Regions from separate parts of the Homo sapiens genome. Here region 1 is linked to region 2. A link means that fine-mapping ties the variant in region 2 to the expression of a gene that starts in the linked region. Tissue or cell type: left ventricle. Region 2 holds a variant in brackets; the other region holds the start of a gene. All regions are shown on one strand. Distances are between the middles of the regions.

Region 1 (9,554 bases), 77 kb after region 2:
ATGTAGTTTGGTTTTGTTTTTCTTTTATGAACCTAATAGCGTGTTTGTTTTAATGCTACTTTTTGTTTATTTTAGCCTCCTCTCTAACATTTTGCAGGCTGCCCTGTATAAAATTAACACCTCTGGAACATCCTGACATATATTTGGCCTTGTGAATAACACTTTAATGTATCTTTAACTGTCTTCTAATTGGATTTTTCAGGCCTCCCTTCCCCATTTTTTTGCACTTGTTAACAATAGAAAGATTACTAACCAAAAAAATTAAAATTTTTAGAATTGTATTTTAAGTGATAATACTTAATGTCAAAATGAAAGTGCACAGTCAAAATGAAAGTGCACAGTAGTTACTGAATTAGGTTCCATGGAGGAAAACGACGTGTAAACTAGACACTCCAATAAAGGGAATTTAATACAAAGAAATATTTGCAGAGGTGTTGGGAAGAGTGAAAAACTAAGGAATAGGAGGTAACCAAGAGACTAATTGAAGGAAGTCTAAGACTCTAGAGGAGAAGGCAGGACCTGATTGTCCAGTGGGGACTGGGTTGTAGAGGATAGGCTGCCTGGCAATGCTCGACACCCAGCCTGAAATGATGGCAGTCGTGCTTGTCTTCTTACTACTCCTAACTTTGGACTCCTCACTTTGAACTCCTGACAGTGTCTTACATTGTATGAACCCATCTGGAAACCACTAGGCACAGGAACCCGGGACATAACTTACAATAGCCCTCCTGGGTTGCACATCCTAGCAGGGCAGAGTGCAGTAAGGAACGAATGAGAGTTGACTGCCAAATGAACAGGACAGTCATCCACATTGCTGTCAGAAATGGTGATACACACAAGTAGAGGCAGAGTTCACACATCATGCGGATAAAGTTGGCACATATTTTTGTTTACTAGTTGATTTAGGTTGGGTTTCTCCAAAAGGCAGGCCCTGTGCCAAACATTTGAGTGAAGTGACTTATTGTGGAAAACCTCTTAGGAGAAATAAGTGAAGAAATATGGGAAGCAGGATGGGGGGGAGGGAAGAAGCCAAGGAAGGAAGTGATTCTGGTGAAGAAAGGCCCAGTCTCAGCCTGGTGCAGAGGGGAGCTTGCACCTCAAAGTTTTTCTTACATTGAACCAAGGGTGCTAGGTCTTTAGATCTCTCCTCCCTCCCTCCTTCCCAAAAACATACACAACACCAGCTTGGATACAGAGCAGCAGAGCAAGGCAGTTCTGTGAAGTTTGTCCCTGGCAGCCCTTAGCAGTGAAGCACTCAGCTGGGAATTGGACACAGCACAGGCAAAAAGGCTTATGGGCAGGAAGAGCAAACACCAGCTAAAGCAGTGCTGCTTCATGACTAGAATAAAAATACAGCCTGCAACTTACTCAGCCTGACAACTCTGAGGTGTGATTTTTGACTATGTTTACTTTGTTGGGAATTCTCATAATTTGAAATTTTGTATAAAAGGTGAATTTATGTTAATAATTTTATATGGCACTTTGTTAAAAGGTTGATTGAGGGAGGATTAAATATTTTAAAAATATAGTTATTTGAAATTTCATGTAACCTCCATAGTAAGTTCCCATTAAATCTTTTCTTTCCAGTCTGTTTCCTTTATGAGCTTACTCTATCCAAGTGGTGTCCTGATACCTAGTTTTTCATTGTAGAAATATACCCAAAACTAATTATTTTAATGTCTGGTCATATTACTACAATTCGCTTCTTTGTTCTTTAGTACTTAGTACTTTTAGATTTGGGGCTTACCTGATTTGTCTTTAGCCAGGCAGTGAAATCAATTTCACTCTTTCCTGTTGTACTTTATCTTTTAAAAAAAAAAAATCTCAGTATAGTTCTGATTAAAATTTCCTTTCTGAGTCCTAAATGCTTTAAATCTTCTTTTCCCATTCTTTTTACTTCTCCTATCCATAGTTACAAGTTCTTACGCATGACATATCTCTTGGCTGATAAGTTTAACTGCTTAAGCACCTGTTTATGTTTCATTTTTAACATAGCCAGTTACTATTATGCTTGGATATACACAATGAGGGAGTTTGTGGCTTTGTTTTCCCTTTCCACAGACGTCTCTAATCTCCTTTATTAAATGCTTTGTATTTCTACTAATTAGTATACATAGCTAAACTTTTTGTTTTTGTTTTTTGAGACATAGTAGTCTTACTCTGTTGCCCAGACTGGAGTGCAGTGGTGCAATCACGGCTCACTGCAGCCTCGGCCTCCCCAGCTCAAGCAGTCCTCCTGCCTCAGCCTTCCAAGTAGCTGGGACTATAGGCATGGACCACTACACCTGGCTAATTTTTTATTTTTTAGAAATGAGGTCCCACTGTCTTGCCCAGGCTGGTCTCAAACACCTGGGCTCAAACAGTTCTCCTGCCTTTGCTACCAAAGCGCTGAGTCACACCTGGCCACACAGCTCAACTTTAACTCTCCTGTTTTTCCCCTTTAAGTTTTTTCTTTAAATTAGGGTTGACAAACTTTCACTAAAGGACTTGAAAGTATTTTAGACATTGTAGGCCATAAGATCTCAGTTGCCACTAATCAGCTCTGCCCTTGTAGTGAAAAAGCAGCCATAGGTAATATGCAACTTCATGCATTTGTCTGGGTTTCAATAAAACTCTTATTTATGGACACTGAACTTTAAATCTCATTTTTCCACATTTGTATGTCTTCCTTTGATCCCCTCCTCCCCCATTGCACTATAAAAGCCATTCTTGGCTTATGTGCCATAGTTTGTCAACCCCTGCTTTAAATGCAGTCTTTGATATGCTTCTGTTGCCTAACCCAGTTACTCACTATTATTACCATAATCTGTGTTGCTAATTACGGAGATCTTTTGCACCTTGCAGCAGGAGACAAGGATGTTCAATAATTTCAGAGCTAAACTCAAAGTATTAAATGCCAGCCTGCTTTGGGGCTTCAGAGATTTTTAAATTCATTGATTTTAAGGGGCATTTGATTTTAAGAGGTGTTTGACAAGAACAGATTTTAAGAGGTATTTGGCAAAAGTTGCTTAGAAGAAAATTATTTGCAAATCATATGCCGTATTCCATTTGTTAGTTGAGTAGATGATAATGGGAATGATACTTATTCAGCATAACATTTGTCTAACTCTTGTAATTGACAGAGTACTTCCACACACATGATCTCACCTGGTCTTCACCATGTGTACTAAGGATAAAGATAGTACAAGTTTAGTATCCCTTATCTAAGTGTTTGGGACCAGGATTGTGTTGCATTTTTTATTTTTATTTTTTTTCTGATTTCGGAATATTTGCATATACATAAGGCAATATCATGGGGATGGGACCCAAGTCTGAACATGAAATTAATTTATGTTTTACATATACCTTATAATATAGCCAGATGGCATCATTATACAGTATTTTTACTAGTTTTGTGCATGAAGTAAAGTTTGTATTAAGCATTTAATGTGTGGAATTTTCCACTTGTGGCATCATATTAGCATTCAAAAAGTTGCAGATTTTGGAGCATTGTGGATTTTGGATTTTCAGATTGGGGTGCTCAACTTGTGTGTTATCCTCACTCTTGTGTGTGAGGGTAACACTTGCATGTTACCCTTATCTAAAGAGGATATATCATAGAGGTTAAGTGACTTGCTTGTGTCCACTAATTATGCAGTGACAGAACCGAGGCTTCTTGTCCATTGAACACTCACAGATTTTAGAAATGAAAAGCATGATATCATCACATTTAATTTTATCATTTTATAAAAGAGAACCCAAGACCCACAGAGCCAGCTCTCAGGAACCTTCATCTCCCAGTTACTAGGCCAGTGTACTTTCTCTTAGGGTCTGTCTCACCTAGAAATAACTAAATTGAAATTTGTTAATATTGTTGTATATAGATACTTTTATTTTAATTTTTTCTTAATATCTTAAAAAGTATAAAGTAAAATGTTTAAGTGCCTGTTAGTATATTTTATTAGTCAACAATGGTTCAAAGCTAAAACTCTTGGATTTTAGTACATGTGGAATAAAAGCAAATCTAACCTTTGTTCCTTTGCAGCACCAGCATTGGATGTTGATTGGCAGAGCAACAACACCTTTGCTTCTTGTAGTACAGATATGTGCATTCATGTCTGTAAATTAGGACAAGACAGACCTATTAAAACATTCCAAGGACATACGGTAAGAAACCTTTTTTCCACATTAAAGTGGTCATGATTAACAAGTAATGTTTCAGAATAGTTTTAAAGTATGTATGTTTAATATTCAAGTAGCTACCCAGTCTATACAATGAAAATGTGAATATTTACTATTATTTTTAGAATGAAGTAAATGCTATCAAATGGGACCCAACTGGCAATCTCTTGGCCTCCTGTTCTGACGACATGACTTTAAAGGTAATTTGCTTAGTAGGGAGAAATGGGTTGGCGGTGTCACACAGTATGGTTGCTCTGGCCATTTTAAGACCATTTAGAATGTCTGTCTTACATGGAGTGTTTGTACCTGCATGAAAACTCCAACATTTTAAATGGCTAACCATTGTTTTTTAAATTTTATAGTTTCTTTTCTGAAATACATAAAACTATTTGAATGTAGCAAATTATATTAAAATGATGGCTTGTGATACAATGAGACATATGATACCCTATTAGTTAGGGCTCTCCAGAGAAACAGAACCAATAAGAAGATGGATGGATGGATGGATGGATGGATGGATGGATGAGAGATTTACTGTGAGAAATTGACTCACGTGATTATAGAGGCTGAGAAGTCCCACAGTCTGCTGTCTACAAGCTGGAGACCCATGAAAGATGGAGGTGTGGTTCCATTCCAGGGCCAGAGAAGGAGTGCCAATGGTGTAAGTCCCAGTCCAAGAGCAGAAGACCAATATACCAACTCAGCAGTCAGGCTGAGGCAGAGAATTCTTGCTTCCTTGGCGGTTTTGTTCTGTTTAGAGCCTCACTGGACTGAGTGATGCCCCCCCCGCCGCCCATTGGGGAGGGTGGCAGTCTGCTTTTCTCAGTCAGCTAAGTTAAATGCCTGTCTCAACTGGGAACACCCTCAGACACAGCCGGAAATAATGTCTCACCAAATATCTGTACCCTGTGACTCAGTCAAGAAGACAGATAAAATTAGACATCACCAATAGTAAGAAAGGTCATGCTATAAATTGTCTTCACCATTAGAAAGTCATATGTTGAGGCAATTAAAGTTTATTTGCAATTAAAGTTTATTTGCATATGTAAAGATTTGACTTAATAAGTACTCAAAATCTTTGTAGCATTCATGGATTTGATTGGAATTCTTTGCGTTGTATTAATTTGATTTTGCTGTGGTATGACTATGTATCACCATTGCTGGGAAACTGATACATAGCAGAGAATCTCTCAGTGAGCGAGCCTAGTTGACATACCAACATCCACATCTCAACATGGATCTCTGTTTTTCTTGTTGTATGACTAAAAGCAAAACTGCTGTCTCGCACCTAAGCACACCAGATTCCTCATTTGGGGAAAAAAGCATTTGGAGATAAAGAACAACGTAATACTTATTTCCAAAATAAATGAAGCTTTGAGCCCTCTCCTGCAACAGCTAACCCTCTACTGAAAACAGTTTTATCCTTGACTTTGCAGTACCAAGGACTGCAGATGTGATGACCGTTACAGATATGAAAATCATGAGGGAAAACTGATTTTCCTGCTACTATGAACAGATTAAATTTAACTTTGCGAAACTTGTGAGGTTTTCTCCTTTAAGTATCTGCTATGTTTTTAGACAGTTCTTCTTAAGTCTGGGCTCCCTTACAAAATTGCTAGTATTAATACTCTTCTTAATGCTTTCATCTTTGGCTTTTCCTTATGTGCACACGTATTAATGCTTATAACATGAAAAAAACTTCTTCTGGAACTGTGTGTGACACATATGAGGAAATGACAGAAGGGCAGTGTCCAGAGGGCCTTGTGCCACATATTGAGTTGAAGCTGGAGAGAGGTTAAAACTAGAAATTGTTAGAGAGCTTTTCTTCATCCTAAGAATGTTTAAATGTCACAAAGGATTTTAAAGCAAAAACTAGGATGGATGGATAATGTGTAATGGGCCGTTTTCTGAGAAGAGGGAATGCCAGATGGAATGAGAAGGTGACGCTGAGTCATGCGAATGGAGGAGATAGGTGGGACTGATGCTTAGAGAACTGTAAGCTCAAGATTAAAAACTGGGAATTCTCAGCAGATAGGTGGTCTTTAAAATCCTTGGGCATGGCCAGGCCTGGTGGTTCACTGTTGGGGTTCAATCAGGCTGGTGGGAAAAATATTAGAGATAGTTATAGAAATAGACACATATCTTCTTGGAAAACTGAGAAGTAACTTCAGTAATAGATCTGGCTGAACGCGGCCTGGTTCCTTTACCTTTAGTTAAACAAATTAAACTAGTAATAAAGGAAGGCAGGGTAGTTTACCTAGCTAGCTTGTTTACTCATATAATATTAAGACTAACCTTTGATGTGCCATGGGTGCTTAAGTGCTTTTTACTTGGGAAGTCCACAATGTCAGTTACCCTCTAATGGTGTTGACTCAAGCCTTTGTGAATTAATCTTACTGAATAAATTTGAGTCTCACTAGCGGATAGGGCCATGGTCGCAACTGTTTACAGAACTCTCCAGGGAGTCTGTAAATGGCTCGGACACCCTCAGCTGGACTGGCGAAACAGGATATCTGTGTGTTAGTGTACTTTATTCATCCATTGCTGGGTCAGGGTCTGCAGGCAGACACCCACAGCTAGTGCCCCCATGTTGCCACAGCTCATGCCTATAATTAAAGCACTTTGGGAGGCCGACGTGGGCAGTTCACTTGAGGTCAGGAGTTCAAGACCAGGCTGGTCAACATGGTGAAACCCCATCTCTGCTAAATATACCAAATTTAGCCGAGCGTGGCGGCAGGTGCCTATAATCCCAGCTACTCTGGAGGCTGAGGCAGGAGAATTGCGTGAACCCGGGGGACGGAGTTGCAGTGAGCCAAGATTGTGGTGCTGCACTCCAGCCTGGGCAAGAGAGTGAGACTTCATCTCCAAAAAAAAAAAAAAAAAATTGGGGCAGGGACAAAACTGTGTAGGTAGTACAGAGTAAGAAAAGAGGGGACCTAAAAAAGTGAGTCTTAGAAACTCTAACAATCACCAAATCAAGAGGGATGAGCTTTCCAAAGGAAACTGAGAAGGTGACTGAGAAAGTGGAAAAAGAAAGTATGTAGAGGAAACTTATTTCAAGGGAGGTAAGAGTTGAGAGTGGCCAACAGTATCAAATTCTATGAATTAGAAAGGTCTAATGAAATCAGTTCTGAAAACATGTCGTTCAGATTTATTTTACTTGGGGTTGTAAATACATAGGGCACCAAAAACACTCTGATGCTTCATTATCTTTTAATGGTTATGTCACGGAAATGTAAAGTTGAGCTGATTTTTTTCTTGGTTGGCCCTCCTTGGGTTTGGCATGTTGTATGTGTATGTGTTAAGGAGATAACTGCAGGACCTACCATGTCTTTATTGAGTGATTTTTTTTTTCCCAGAAATACTCTTCGTGTTGATTTCTATGAATTTTTGCTCAAAAATAATAGTCACTTGAAATCTATACACACAGGCATATTTTCATCTCAGGAAAGGCTTATTCTCTACTTTGACTACTTTTTTCTACTTTTTTTTTTTCCTACTTTTCATTTGAGCTTTATTTCCTATGCTACTTTTTACGGTTCTCTGTGAGTCCTCATTATTTATAAGTTGGTTATTTATTTTCAGTTCTCCATTGTAAAATTTTCCTGATTCTAAAATTCTAAGAGCAGTTTATTATGTAGATCTTTTGCTTAAGGGACAGTGTAAAAACTGTGCCTTCAACATTTTAGGATCGTTAACTAATCTCAGAACAACTATAGTTAATTCAGTCTTCAAACTTTGTAATAGTGAATATTTTTAAAGGGCTTAAAGCTAACTTTTTTTTTTAAACAGAGATGTAAATATTAAATATATCCTATTGCATTTCAGTTTCTTTGTAAATATTCTATCATCATTCTGGTTATATCACTCATGTTTTAGACTGTCCATATAATATTTTAAGTGTCAAAATAATATTTTAAATATACTCATTGTATGGAAAAATAATTGTATACATTTTTCTTTTTTGTTTAGATATGGAGTATGAAACAAGACAATTGTGTCCATGATTTGCAAGCACATAATAAAGAAATTTATACTATCAAATGGAGTCCAACAGGACCAGGGACTAATAATCCAAATGCCAACCTTATGTTAGCAAGGTGATACTTCTGTTTCATTTTTCCTTTTATGAGTCTTCTACAAATCAGACTTCCAATAGATATGACAGAAGTTTAGGGAAGATTTCATGAAGTGGAAACTTTTTTTTTTTTTTTTCCAATTTCAGTAGTTTTTGGTGTATAGGTGGTTTTTGGCTACAAGAATAAATTCTTTAGTGCTGATTTCTGTGCACTGGTTTTGCAAGCAGTGTAGTGTACCCAGTGTGTAGTCTTTTATTCCTCACCTCTCTTCTCAGCCTTCTCCCCACTCCCACCTCCAGTCCACAAAGTTCATTATATCATTCTTATACCTTTGTGTCCTCATAGCTTAGCTCCCACTTACAAGTCAGAACATGATATTTGGTTTTCCATTCCCGAGTTATTTCACTTAGCATGATGGCCTCCAGCTCTATCCAAGTCACTGCAAAGGACAATATTTTATTTCTTTTTATGGCTAAGTAGTATTCCATGGTGTATGTATACCACATTTTCTTTATCCACTTGTTAGCTGATGGGCACTTACGTCGGTTCCTTAAGGGGAATCTTTAAACACTGAGTTTTATTATTGTTTCAAGTTATAATGATATTCTATATTGAAATAATCAAATATTGACTGATACCAAATACTGATTAAAATCCAAGCAATTGAGGCATAGCAAAATCTTCAGTATCTTTAGAAAAAAAAAAGATAAATGGAAAAATGTGGTCACTTTGGTGTTCAAAACCATGCGAAAGAGGGATTATTTAGACAGAGAGGAATACAGTAAATGAGCACATTTACGTTTTCTACTCCTGGACTTGGGAGATTCCTTTAAGTTGTTTTTTTCGCTTGTTTAGCTTTTAATTTCTAGAACACTTGCTCTTCTTTCTAAATTTCATTTATTTATTATTTTCTTGTCACTGACTTGAAGATCACAGAATATTCTTCCTAACAGTCCAGTCGGTCTGCTTCTCATAAAGAATTTTGGCTATTAGATTTGGCTGAATATGGGAGGTTGGGTGGGAGCAAGGCTGGGGGAGTATTTCCTTACTTATAAATTAACTTTCTTTCCTTCCTTTTTCAGTGCATCCTTTGATTCTACTGTTAGGTTATGGGATGTAGACCGAGGGATATGCATCCATACCTTGACAAAACACCAAGAGCCTGTGTACAGTGTAGCTTTCAGTCCTGATGGCAGGTATCTGGCAAGTGGTTCTTTTGACAAATGTGTACACATCTGGAACACGCAGGTATGTCTTCATTATTTAAATGGTCAAGTGCTCTTAAATTTAGGTAGAAGCATTTGCCTATACACT
Region 2 (11,664 bases):
GGCATAACTGGAGGTAAAGACCTATACTATCACAGGGAGGAGTGCATGTTGGAAAGTAATGAGAAGTTAAGGTTATCAATTCTGTGCTCCAGAAGTAGGCTCTATATAGTTATGTTTGCTGTTTAGAGATGATGCAGTTGGAAAATGGCCCTCTTATTTAAATAAAGGTTGGTGAGACACCTGCTGGAGTATAACTAGATTCACCTTACGCAGTATTTTTAGATGAGCGAGTCCCCAAGGGCTTTCTGTTAGCAAAAAGGAGGATATCCCAACTCTTTCTCCCTGAAATTTGAAGTAACTAATACCAAGGGCAGTGGTTGCATTACAATAAAATGACCATGTAGAAAATGGGTGAGGTTGGTATAGAGCACTAATTCAATACACAGGACCAAGGATTCTTTGGAATGTTTCTTCGTGTCGTGTGGTTGATTCTGGAGCTTCTAGCCACGCAAGTATGCCAGTTGATCATGGAGGAACATTAAATGGTCACAGAAGTATAATCTAAAATAATCTGCAAAATTGGTAATTGGTGTTGTTGCCTAGACTGGGATCTGGACCAGCAGTGTATCACAATGTAGTGAATGGTCACTGTTTGTTCAGCAAATTTCAACAATTTCTGTTGCGGGACAGTTAAGAAACAAAGACAGTATATGAATAACCATTCTATGTAGGTTTCTCTGCCTCAGGATTCAAAACACCCCTTCCCCTAACCATTCATGTCTATTTACTTATCTAAACAAAATCAAAAGAAGCCCTAATTATATAGGAATCCAGCCATCGATTGGAAAAATAAAAGAGATGGGACCATATTTTATGACAAGTTGTGGAAAAGGTTCCAGGATCAAATTGGGTAGGGTGTAAATATTCTTCACCCGTGGAACTGCTGTGGTTTCTTTTCTTTTAAAACCTGATTATCAGCCAGGTGCGGTGGCTCACGCCTGTAATCCCAGCACTTTGGGAGGCTGAGGTGGGTGGATCACCTGAGGTCAGGAGTTTGGAGACCAGCCCGGCCAACATGGTGAAACCCCATCTCTACTAAAAATACAAATAGTAGCCGGGTGTGGTGGCAGGTGCCTGTAATCCCAGCTACCCGTGATGCTGAGGCAGGAGAAGTGCTTGAACGTAGGAGGCGGAGGTTACAGTGAACCGAGATCATGCCACTGCACTCCAGCCTGGGGTACAAGAGTGAAACTCCGTCTCAAAAACAAAAAACAAAAAAAACCTGATTATCCAGGTTTTTCTTTGTTTTTATGAGCTTATACTTTCTATAGGTCCCATTTTTCTTGAGTTATTATGTGGAGTTGCTGTCTGGTTTGCAGGCAATATGCCTGAATGGTTACAATGCTAAATCGTATCTCTTGATTTTATAAAAGTTCAGTTTGAGAAACTGACAAAATACGACACTTGCCATATATTATAATGTATTCATTTTGTCTCTACTCCCCCATTAAAATACAAACTTCAGGGTGGTTTCTTGACTGTTGTTCTTAGCATCTGAAATGAAGCATGGCAAATAGTACACATTCAGTAACTAGTTATTAAATGAATGAAGAACTATGATATTTGACAGCATTACATGCAACTAAGCCTCATAAAGAAGGGAATTCACAAATGGATTCTCTTTAAAGTCTTCCTAATGTCTGTCTTTTTATTTCCTTTCTTCTTCCTTCCGTTGTGGGCTTTGTTTTGATCAGTGAAAGGGTGAGTATAAGAAGCTGCATTTTAAGTTTTCAGGAATCTAGTCATGCCTTTGGATAAAAATACCGTGGTCACACTTTTAGCTTTGATGAGAAAAGGGCCTCATTAGGTCATTTTGAGTCATTAGGCTCAATGTTAAAGCTACTCAGCGATGAGGGCATGAAAGACGTATAGTTGTTTGTTCACAGTGCTTGTCCTTAAATAGGCTCTTAAATGAGTTAATGAATGAATGAATGTTCAAGAACTCTTTAGAGACTTTGAAAAGATCGAGTGATTTTGAAATAACAGACTCTGGGATCTGGAACTTCTATATTCGCATGGAATAGAACTAGTTTCTTAGAATGTGGGTAGTCATTGCTTGAGCTTTCTACTAATATGTCCTGAGTCTCTGGCTGAGAAGAGTGGATAAAATGGTAGGTGAGGTAAAGAAAGAAAGTCACAATTCGTATACTACCTATAAAAGATTTATAAATGGCCATTGGCCCTAGATTCCTGGTTTCTGATTTCTTACTACCTACGATAGACTCCTGGTTTCTGATTTCTTACTACCTTGCATAGTATAAAAATAGCAAATTGAGGGGGTCAGAATGTTCAGTGGTTATTGGTTGACATTCACCTTTTTTCCTTCCCATTGAACCCATTCTGCTCTTTAATACTGCTTCTTTGCCCTTGGAAAGAAATCGCCAGTTTTACTTTATATTTCTCCCAATCAGTGGCATAGAAGTAGAGTTTATTAAAGCTCTAAGTAAGATTTGTTGAATTCTTTCAAATTAGAAGATTAGTCACTGTACTAGTGGAATTTGAAGTCAAGACTGAATCAAAGTGTTAACATTTTCATTACTGCACTAGAAAAGATGCATATTAATAGAATTTATAGAGCACATTAGATTTCCCTGTGTAGCAAACAATCTGGGAGACCCGAGAGCTTATGCTGCCTATAAGGAACTACGCTGAATGGGAAACTGGTATTTTCTATGACTGTTTTAACATTATTTTGATGTCATATCTAAAAGGGAAATTTTAGACTGTGCAGATAATTCAGCAATCTGCATGACTTTCAATACCAAAATAAAGGTACTATTTTAAAATACTGTGTAATTATGGAGCAGGCTTTAATGGAAGCCTTATTAAATTTACCCATTATTTGCTGTTGCTGAAAATATCTTTCCCAGGAATTCAGTGTTGCTATTCTAGGCAATAGTTTCATTGCTTCGCAGCTACTATTTGGAAGACAGGGAACAGGAATAATAATACTAGACTGATGTTTGTTTAAATAGTGGAGATTTGATTAATCCAGTACCCACTATAGATTATTGGTTGTGATGTTAGTTAAAAATGGGCATCATTTCTTCAAAGCCATAATCTTGACCCACTCCTGCAAATTCTTTTTTCTCCCTTCTCATTTATATTCAGTATTTATTCTAGAATCGTTACCCCATTTTCGGAATGCCAATAGCAGTGTGTTTAGAAACCGGGTCATGTTGTTTTTATAAGATAAACTGCATAATGTTCCTAAGCACAGAAAATAAAGCATTCTGGACTTTCAGACTGGGTGGATTGACAGTTTATTTCAGCAAATCTTGTACTTCTGGTAAAGGACAGTTCAGTGTTTCCCATCATATAGAAAATCTAGGAAAAATAGCAACAGCTACCATTTATTAAGTGCTTTTTATTTCCCAGGTACTATTACGTGCTTGATAATGCATTATCTCATTTAGTTAACATAACTTTCCTCTGAGAGAAGATACCATTACAATCTTGTTTTACTGATGAGAAAACTGAGGTTTAGAGAGGTTAAATAACCAGCTTGTTGTTTGATTCTCAGTGGAAGGTAGAGTAACAGTATTATTGTAGTTCTTATTCTATCCCATATGTTCTCGGCATTCAAGTTACAAAGCTGGATAAGGCATCTTTCAAGATACATACCTTCTAGTGAAGGGAGACAGGCATGTAAAATGGATATCCACAATGGTTAGTAGGATGTGAGTGATCTAAAATTTAGCCAGAGGATACAGCATTTCCAAAGTCTGCTAATGTAAGAGGAGTTTGGGAAACTAAAAACATACACATGTCAAGTTGCATCCTAGAAATAGAAGGTCATGGTGCTTAGTGCTTACTTACAGGAAATGAGGGAGGAGAAGGAGCCATATCTCTAGTTTGGGTGACAAGTTGGGTGAAAGTGGCGCCATCCACCAAGGTAGGAAATACGAGAAGAGGAACAAGTTTGGGGTGGGAGATGAATTAAATTTATACATAGAAAATTTGCAATGCATTGTGTGACATGGGTTGGGGGGAGAATGATGATGTCTAGTTGGTTTCAAGTAAGTAAAATACCATTTTAAACAAATTGTGAGACAGGAAGGTACTGTTTTTCAAAATTCCATTGCCCTTAGTGTGATGAATTCCATCAGGTTTATTGCCTGGGTTGGAAAATGGCTACTGCTGCAGGAGGCATCATATTTAAGCAGGAAGAAGTGCTGCACCTGTTCTTTATTTTCATTAAAGCAAAAGCTTCCCCTGGCCTCCTCATTCCTTCCCTAGCGGACTTCTGAGGCCTTACCAGCCAGAACTGATCAATATGGCTGCCTCTGGCTGCAAGAAAGGTTAGGAAAGCAAGTATTTATCTGGGCCTGTTGCTGCTTTGAAGAAAATTAGAATTATGTTAGCAAGGAGGCTGAAGGCATCTGAAGAGTTGTTAAATGAATAGTTAATTAAGCAGTGCCTCAACAAAGAAACCCATTACTACTTCTTGCTTCAAAACTAAAAAAATCAAAAGCTTAAATTTTAGATATCCAATGATGTTCAATTATAAATTTTGGGATGCATTAAAAACAATTTGGGCTGTAGACCTCAAAGTTGCGGGGAAAGAGTGGAATGAGGCGTACGGATAGTGTGATTGAAGGGGGGTCAGTAGGCAGCATAGAGAGATTTGGGGAAGAATTGACCAAATTTTGCGGTTGTGGTGGACAAAGGAGGCAGAGCAAAGGGGTGTGACCCTCAGGCTTTTGGGTTGGGTAGTGAATAGCAGTAAGCAGCACAATATGACTATGATAATGACTAGTGTTTTTGTGCCTTCCAAGACTTTTTGGTAAACTTCCAAAAGGAGAAAAATGATGTATTTTAAAATTTCAGTCTCTCTTATAAATACTGATTATGTTATTAAGTAAATTTGACCTGACTCCATCAGGTGAAGTTCCTGATTTTTAAAAGTATCATCAGTTTTTTTAACAGTTACATCCATATAGTATTGCAGGAAGTAGTTAGTTGTATGAAATACTATAGGTCAAAAGTAATTGGAAGCTGGGTCAGGTAGATGGTTAAAAAGTGTACTTACTGGTTGATGGCATTACACTGTACTCTGGTGGGGGCCCAAGATCCTTACTGTATGGAGTCCATCCTGCCCATGGCACTGTGGCAGTAAGACAATATGGATGTAGACCGCCTCACTCCTCCTTACAGTGATACTTTAATTAAAAATCATTATTATTATTATTATT[AT/T]TTTTTTCCCCAAAGTGACAAGGTCTTACTCTGTTGCCCAAGCTGGAGTGTAGAGCTGTCATCATGGCTCACTGCAACCTCAAACTCCTGGGCTCAAGGGGTCCTCCTGCCTCAGCCTCCCAAGTAGCTGGGACTACAAGTGCATGCCACCCTGCCCAGCTAATTTTTAACATTTTTTTTATAGAGATGGGGTCTTGCTGTGTTGCCCAGACTTGTCTCGAACTCCTGGGCTTAAGCGATCTTCCCATCTCAGCGTCCCAAACCACTGGGATTAGAGGTGTGAGCTACCGTATCTGGCCAAACTTTTTTTTTTTTCTTTTTAATTTTAAAAAAGTGACATACGACATTATGTTTTTGTCATGTGCAACACAAATCTTTTGAAATACATATATTGGCTGGGTGTGGTGGCTCATGCCGTAATCCCAGCACTTCAGGAGGCCAAGGCAGGAGGATCTCTTGAGCCCAGGAGTTCAAGACTAGCCTGGACAACAGTGTGAGGGCCCGTCTCTACAAAAAGTTAAAAATTAGCTGGTCTTGCTGGGCAGCTACTTGGGAGGCTGAGTCAAGAGGATCTTTTGAACTTGGGGTTGGGGAGGTGGAGGTCAAGGCTGCAGTGAGCTATGATAACACTGCTGTACTCTAGCCTGGGCAACAAAGCAAGACCCTATCATATATATATCATATATCATATATATGTATCCATATATATGATGTGTGTATATATATATGATTATATATATGAGATGTATATATATATGATGTGTATGTATATATATGATGTATGTATACATATAGAGAGAGGAATGGTTGAATCTAGTGAATTAATAAATGCATTACCCCATAGTTACCATTTTGTGGTAAGAGCACATAACATCTACTCTACATTTTTCAAGAATATGCCATTTTTAACTTTAGTCAAATTGCTGTATAATTGATCTCTTGAAGTTTATTCTTTTTGTCTAACTGTAATTATGTATCCTTTGACCAACATTTACCCAGTAGTGGGATTGCTGGATCATATGGTGGTTATTTCTGTTTTAAATTTTTTTTTAGAAACCTTCATATTATTTTCAGTAATGGCCACCAACAGTGTGTTAAGGATTCTCTTTTCTCCATATTCTCAGCAGCACTTGTTGTCTTTTGTCTTTTTGATAATGTTCATACTGACTGGGGTGAGATAATATTTCATTGTGGTTTTGATTTTCCTGATGATTAGTGATGTCGAACATTCTTTCATAAACCCGTTGATATTTGCATGTCTTTTGAGAAATGTCTATTCAGGTCTTTTGCCATTTATTTATTTTTATTTAATTTTTAAATTGTTTATAGAGATGGGGTCTCCATATGTTGCCCAGGCTAGTCACAAACTCCTGGCCTAAAGCGATTCTCCAGCCTTCACCTTCTAAAATGTTAAGATTACAGGCATGAGCCACTGTGCCTGGCCATTTTGCCGATTTTAAATATTAGGTTATTTGATTTTTTGTTATTGAGTTGTCTTAAGTTCTTTTAGATATTATTTGTCAGATACATAATTTGCAAATATTTTCTCCTGTAGGTTATTGTTTTTCTCTGTTTATTGCTTTCTTTGCTGTGCAGAAGGTTTTGGTTTTATGTAATCCCATTTGTCTATTTTTGCTTTCGTTGCTTGTACTTTTTGAGGTCCTATCCAAAGAAAATCCTTGCCCAGATTGCTGTCAGGAAGTGTTCCTCTTGAGTTTTCTTTTAGTAATTTTCTAGTTTTGAGTCTTATGCTTAAGTCTTTAATCCATTTTTTTTGTTTAATTTTTGTATATGGTGAAAGATAAGGGTCTACTTTCATTTTTCTACATGTGAATATTCATTCTGTTTCCCCAAAACCATTTATTGAAGACACTGTTCTCTCCCCACTGTGTGTTCTTGGCACCTTTGTCAAAAATTAGTTGACTGTAAATGTGTAGATTTACTTTTGGGTTCTCTCTATTCTATTCCGTGTGTGTGTGTGTGTGTGTTTTGAGACAGTCTTGCTTCATCGGAGTGCAGTGCCACGATCTCTGCTCACAGCAACCTCTGCCTCCCTCCGCCTTTCAGATTCAAGCGATTCTCCTGCCTCAGCCTCCCGAGTAGCTGCGACTCCAGGCACATGGTACCACGCCCGACTAATTTTTGTATTTTTAGTAGAGACGGGGTTTCACCATGTTGGCCAGGCTGGTTTCGAACTCCTGACTTCGTGATCCGCCCGCCTCAGCCTCCCAAAGTGTTGGGATTACAGGTGTGAGCCACCGCACCCAGCAGGTCTTTGAGGGCTTTCACAAAAAAGTGTTCTCATACTTTTCTTTTTCTTGAAAAGTAGAAATTTGGCCGGGCACCTAATTACTTGTTTTTAAAACGGACAATATTATGTACTGTACAAAATAGTCAGATTTAAATGATACTGAGTGTGCCAGCAATGTAGAGTTTAATACTCATTTTATCACCTCTGATAAGAATGTTTAACCATTTCCGATCTCAATCTGTATGCATAAAACAAAGGGGATTGAATGAGACAGCTTTTCTTTAACTGTCCTATGATCAAAACAAGTTTTCCATGCTATTTAAATGATACTTTAGGCCGGGGGCCGTGGCTCGTGCCTGTAATCCCAGCACTTTTGGAGGCTGAGGTGGGTGGATCACCTGGGGTTAGGAGTTCTAGACCAGCCTGGCCAACGTGTCAAAACCCCACCTCTACTAAAAATACAAAAATTAGCTGAGCGTAGTGGCAGACGCCTGTAATCCCAGCTACTTGGGAAGCTGAGGTGGGAGAATTGCTTGAACCCGGGAGACGCAGGTTTTAGTGAGCCGAGGTGGTGCCACTGTACTTCAGCCTCGGCAACAGAGTCAGAGCCCCTCACAAAAAAAAAAAAAAAAAATATATATATATATATATATATATATATATATATTTGATTTTATATCTTTGTTGTCTTATTTCTTAGAAGGCAGGAGATATTTTCTTCTTCGTTTCAGGGCCTAGTTCTTATTTTTTAAAAGGCTTCAAAGGATCTTAGCAGTCAATCCAATAAACCCAGTCATTGCTTGTTGGTGGTGAGTCTTAAGAGGCTTAAGTTGTAGGCCTAAGACCACTGGCACCCTACAGGCAGAGTTGGGATGAGGACCCAGGTGCATTGTAAAAGGTTCCCTAAACCGTTTCTCTTTCTGTGAATAAATGACCTTGGTTTAATGTTTAGCTCTGACTCATCTGAAATCTAAAGTGAAATGTCAATATTAACAGCCACCATATAGGGTATGGCAAAGAGATTCCTGACACGTGAACTGCACCTGGTTTGGGAAGGTGTGATGCATTCTTAAAACAGCATATCCTTCGTGGATTGGGTGCCCTGGAAGATATGTCCAGGAGATGCTTATAAGATGATAGTGGGCCTGGCGCAGTGGCTGAAGCCTGTAATCTCAGCAGTTAGGGTGGCCTAGATGGGCAAATAACTTGAGGTCAGGAGTTCAAGACCAGCCTGGCCAGCATGGTGAAACCCAGGCTCAACCGATCCTCCCAGCTATTTTGTCTCTACTAAAAATACCCAAATTAGCCTGGCATGGTGGCATGCACCTGTAGTCCCAGCTACTCGGGAGGCTGAGGCAGGTGAATCGCTTGAACCCAGGAGGCAGAGGTTGCAGTGAGCCGAGATAGCGCCACTGCACTCCAGTCTGGGCAACAGAGAAAGGCTCTGTCTTTAAAAAAAAAAAAAAAAAATCAATCATAGTGGTTTCTCAGTGGAACTCAGGTGTGTCTAACCCAGGGTAACTTTTGTATCGTTTGTGGATTCTTTGCCCTTTGCATACCTACCTGAATAATGATATGGTGATGGTGATGATAGTAGGGAGAGGTGCAAAGACAATAGCTCCTGGATTGCATGTCCTCCTGTTGTGTGCCTGGCGTGATACTGCCCTGCTAGCCTGTCCTGTCCTGTAGCTTTCTCTGTAAACACATGCCAGGTGTGGCCTACTTAGGTTTTGTGAATTTGTCTAGTTGAGTCTGAGTTGTTAGAGCAGTTCCTTTCAACTGTTGATTTGCTTGACGTGAGATCAAGGGGGTGAAAATCATACACAACACATTTTTTTCCTCTTTGTTTGAAAGATATTTTCCTCTTCTGGACCCTATCTAGAAGAAGTATTCCTTAGACAATTTCCGGCTTCTTTTCTCTCATGAAGAGGAGGTAAGATTTTTGTTCTCACACTTATCTGCTTCCCAAAATATCCCCCCCGTTCTCATTAAGTTCTGACCACTCCTTCCTCTCATCTCATTTAATTCTTATTCATATCTAGAATTGTGTTTTAGGTACAATAGTAGGCATAAGTCACAGACATACTGTCATTTATTCCTGTGCATTTACAATAGAAGGTATTGAAAAAATTCAGCTTAGTGTCTTCATAGTTCTAGCTTTATGCATTTTCACAGACATTTATCCTTTGCCTCCTCTTTGTCTTCTGCTGAAGAATAGTGAACACAGTAGGGAAAAAAAAACCACAAAACCAAGACCAGGTGTTCTTAAGCAAAGAAGTTCTGGTTTGTGTTTTGTTATTTTTCCCTAGTCAGGTATTTTAAATTCGTAATGGTGGGTGTATAGCCCTAGATACATTGTAAGCTTTGCTGGATATTTACAAATTGTTGCCTAAACTGTAGAAGGGCTTAAGTCATTAGACATTCTATTTTAGTGACATTTTTCTGTTTTTCTGTATCATGTGTCTTGGAAAAACTTTGAAGTTCTTTGATGTTAATTTTGTAAGAATGTGTGTCTGAAAATATTTTGACTGAATAGACTCTGGGTTACAGTTAAGAATTTCTTTGATTTGGCACATCTTCTCTTTAGCATTTCATAGCTTTTATCATGGCCTGCATATACAACATGTCAATTATAATGCCTGATAGGTCTCCTAGGAGTTGTAGCTTCACAATATATAGGAGGCATCAGGCACAAATCGATACTGCAGAGAAAAAATTAGAGTAACTAAAACATAAATGACGTATTTTGTGAATAAGGAAGTGTTCTAGGTATGCCTTCCAGTAGTAAGCGGACAACACCAAGATATAAGGCACGTCTTCATACATCATTGTCTGTACACAGAACATCGAGCATACAGGAAGCTTCCTGAGTATCTTGCTGTCTCTCAATTGAAATACAAACCAACTCTGGCTCTGACCATCCTACTTTAATATTGCAACCCAGGGGTTCCTCTTTCACCTCTCTTCCCCCCAACTTCTGAATCCCTTTACCCTGCTTGGACTTTTTCTTTTTTCATAGCATTTATGATTGTAACATTACTTATTAATCAAAATTCTGCTGGAATTTAAACTGTGAGAGAGCAGGGATCTGTGTTTTATTTACTGATGTATTTTAGTAAGTTTTGTCCCCAGTGGGTGAATTAATAGTAACTCGATGTAAAGGGCTAACTTTTAATGTTAACAATCTCTAGTAGAAAGGTTAATTACAATTTGTTTTTTCTTCCTTCTTCCTTTCTTTCCCCACCTCTTCTTTCTTCCCATAGTTCTGTTGTCTACTGCAGGACAAATCTTACAATCATCCCAAAATACAAAAACAAAACAACCTTCTGTTTAGTCTTGGAGGTAAACATAGGCTTTAAATTACATTTCTTCCTATTCTCTTAAAGGGGACTTGCTTGATAGTTTGTATTTTCTTGAGTAACTAATGCATTTCTAATGGAGAGAGTTCATTTAGTGTGCAGGTTCTTTGTTTCTGATTGAATGTTTGGTTGCTTTCATATTCAGTTTATGTTCAATTAAAAAATTGGGAAAAGGTATGAAATTGACAATTTTAAATGTAATTTTGTTTATATATTAACTTGTTTTTAAAAATTAATTACAAATATACAATTTACTTGTTTTTTCCCCATATTTATCTGTGAATTAGATTATGATTTAGGATTGTTAGAAAATGTGAAAAGAAAACATGTTTGACAATAACATTTTCATCTCTATTATAGAAGTGATTTTTGGTATCCAGATATCCTTATCCCATCAAAAAGCTAAAATGCAAGCTCATTTTCTGTTAATTTTTAAGATGGGCATAACATTTCTTCTCATCGCTGCTTGGTGAACATTAGCTAGTATTGCCACAACTTATGGCCAGTGTTTTCTGTTTCTTCCTTCCTTCTATTTGCTCTGGCAAAGAGGACGCATTTCCAGGACCAGTCTCAGCTAGCCCAGTGTCTTTATTGTCTGTTTCTTTGTTGTTTGCATTAATAAAAATACCATTAGTATTTTTTAAACTCATGGAAATTCATAATTCAAACAATTTTTTTGCTTAGGGAGTTGATTCTTTTTGTTCTTTTAATACTATACTATTTTTAACCTTTTTGCTCCCTTTTAAACTATACATGCAGTTATAATTAACTGATATTAGTATTACTTCTGTGCGAAAATGCCTTTAGGCATTCAATAGGATTATAAATCCTAGTTTATTTTCTTTACAATAAGCCAAA

The links. PIP is the estimated chance that this variant, and not a neighbour inherited with it, causes the effect. A credible set is the group of variants that fine-mapping cannot tell apart.
Region 1: TBL1XR1-AS1 starts here. The variant in region 2 is the best candidate, but not a certain one, in a credible set for the expression of TBL1XR1-AS1 in left ventricle (GTEx, PIP 0.57).

The regions. Positions count from the first base shown.
Region 1 is chr3:177,032,905-177,042,458 of GRCh38, reverse strand. TBL1XR1-AS1 (TBL1XR1 antisense RNA 1) reads right to left here and starts at 5,054. Exons shown (of 4, transcript NR_174966.1): 1 at 4,715-5,054; 2 at 4,009-4,097. TBL1XR1 (TBL1X/Y related 1) reads left to right here. Exons shown (of 16, transcript NM_024665.7): 11 at 4,025-4,146; 12 at 4,287-4,361; 13 at 8,134-8,261; 14 at 9,323-9,488. RefSeq lists a silencer at 589-833 and enhancers at 2,244-2,538, 3,880-5,079.
Region 2 is chr3:177,108,525-177,120,188 of GRCh38, reverse strand. All of the region lies in intron 1 of TBL1XR1 (TBL1X/Y related 1), which reads left to right. Among named protein-coding and RNA genes, the nearest start is that of TBL1XR1-AS1, 77 kb to the right of the region's middle. The variant AT/T (reference allele first, on the strand shown) is at 5,196.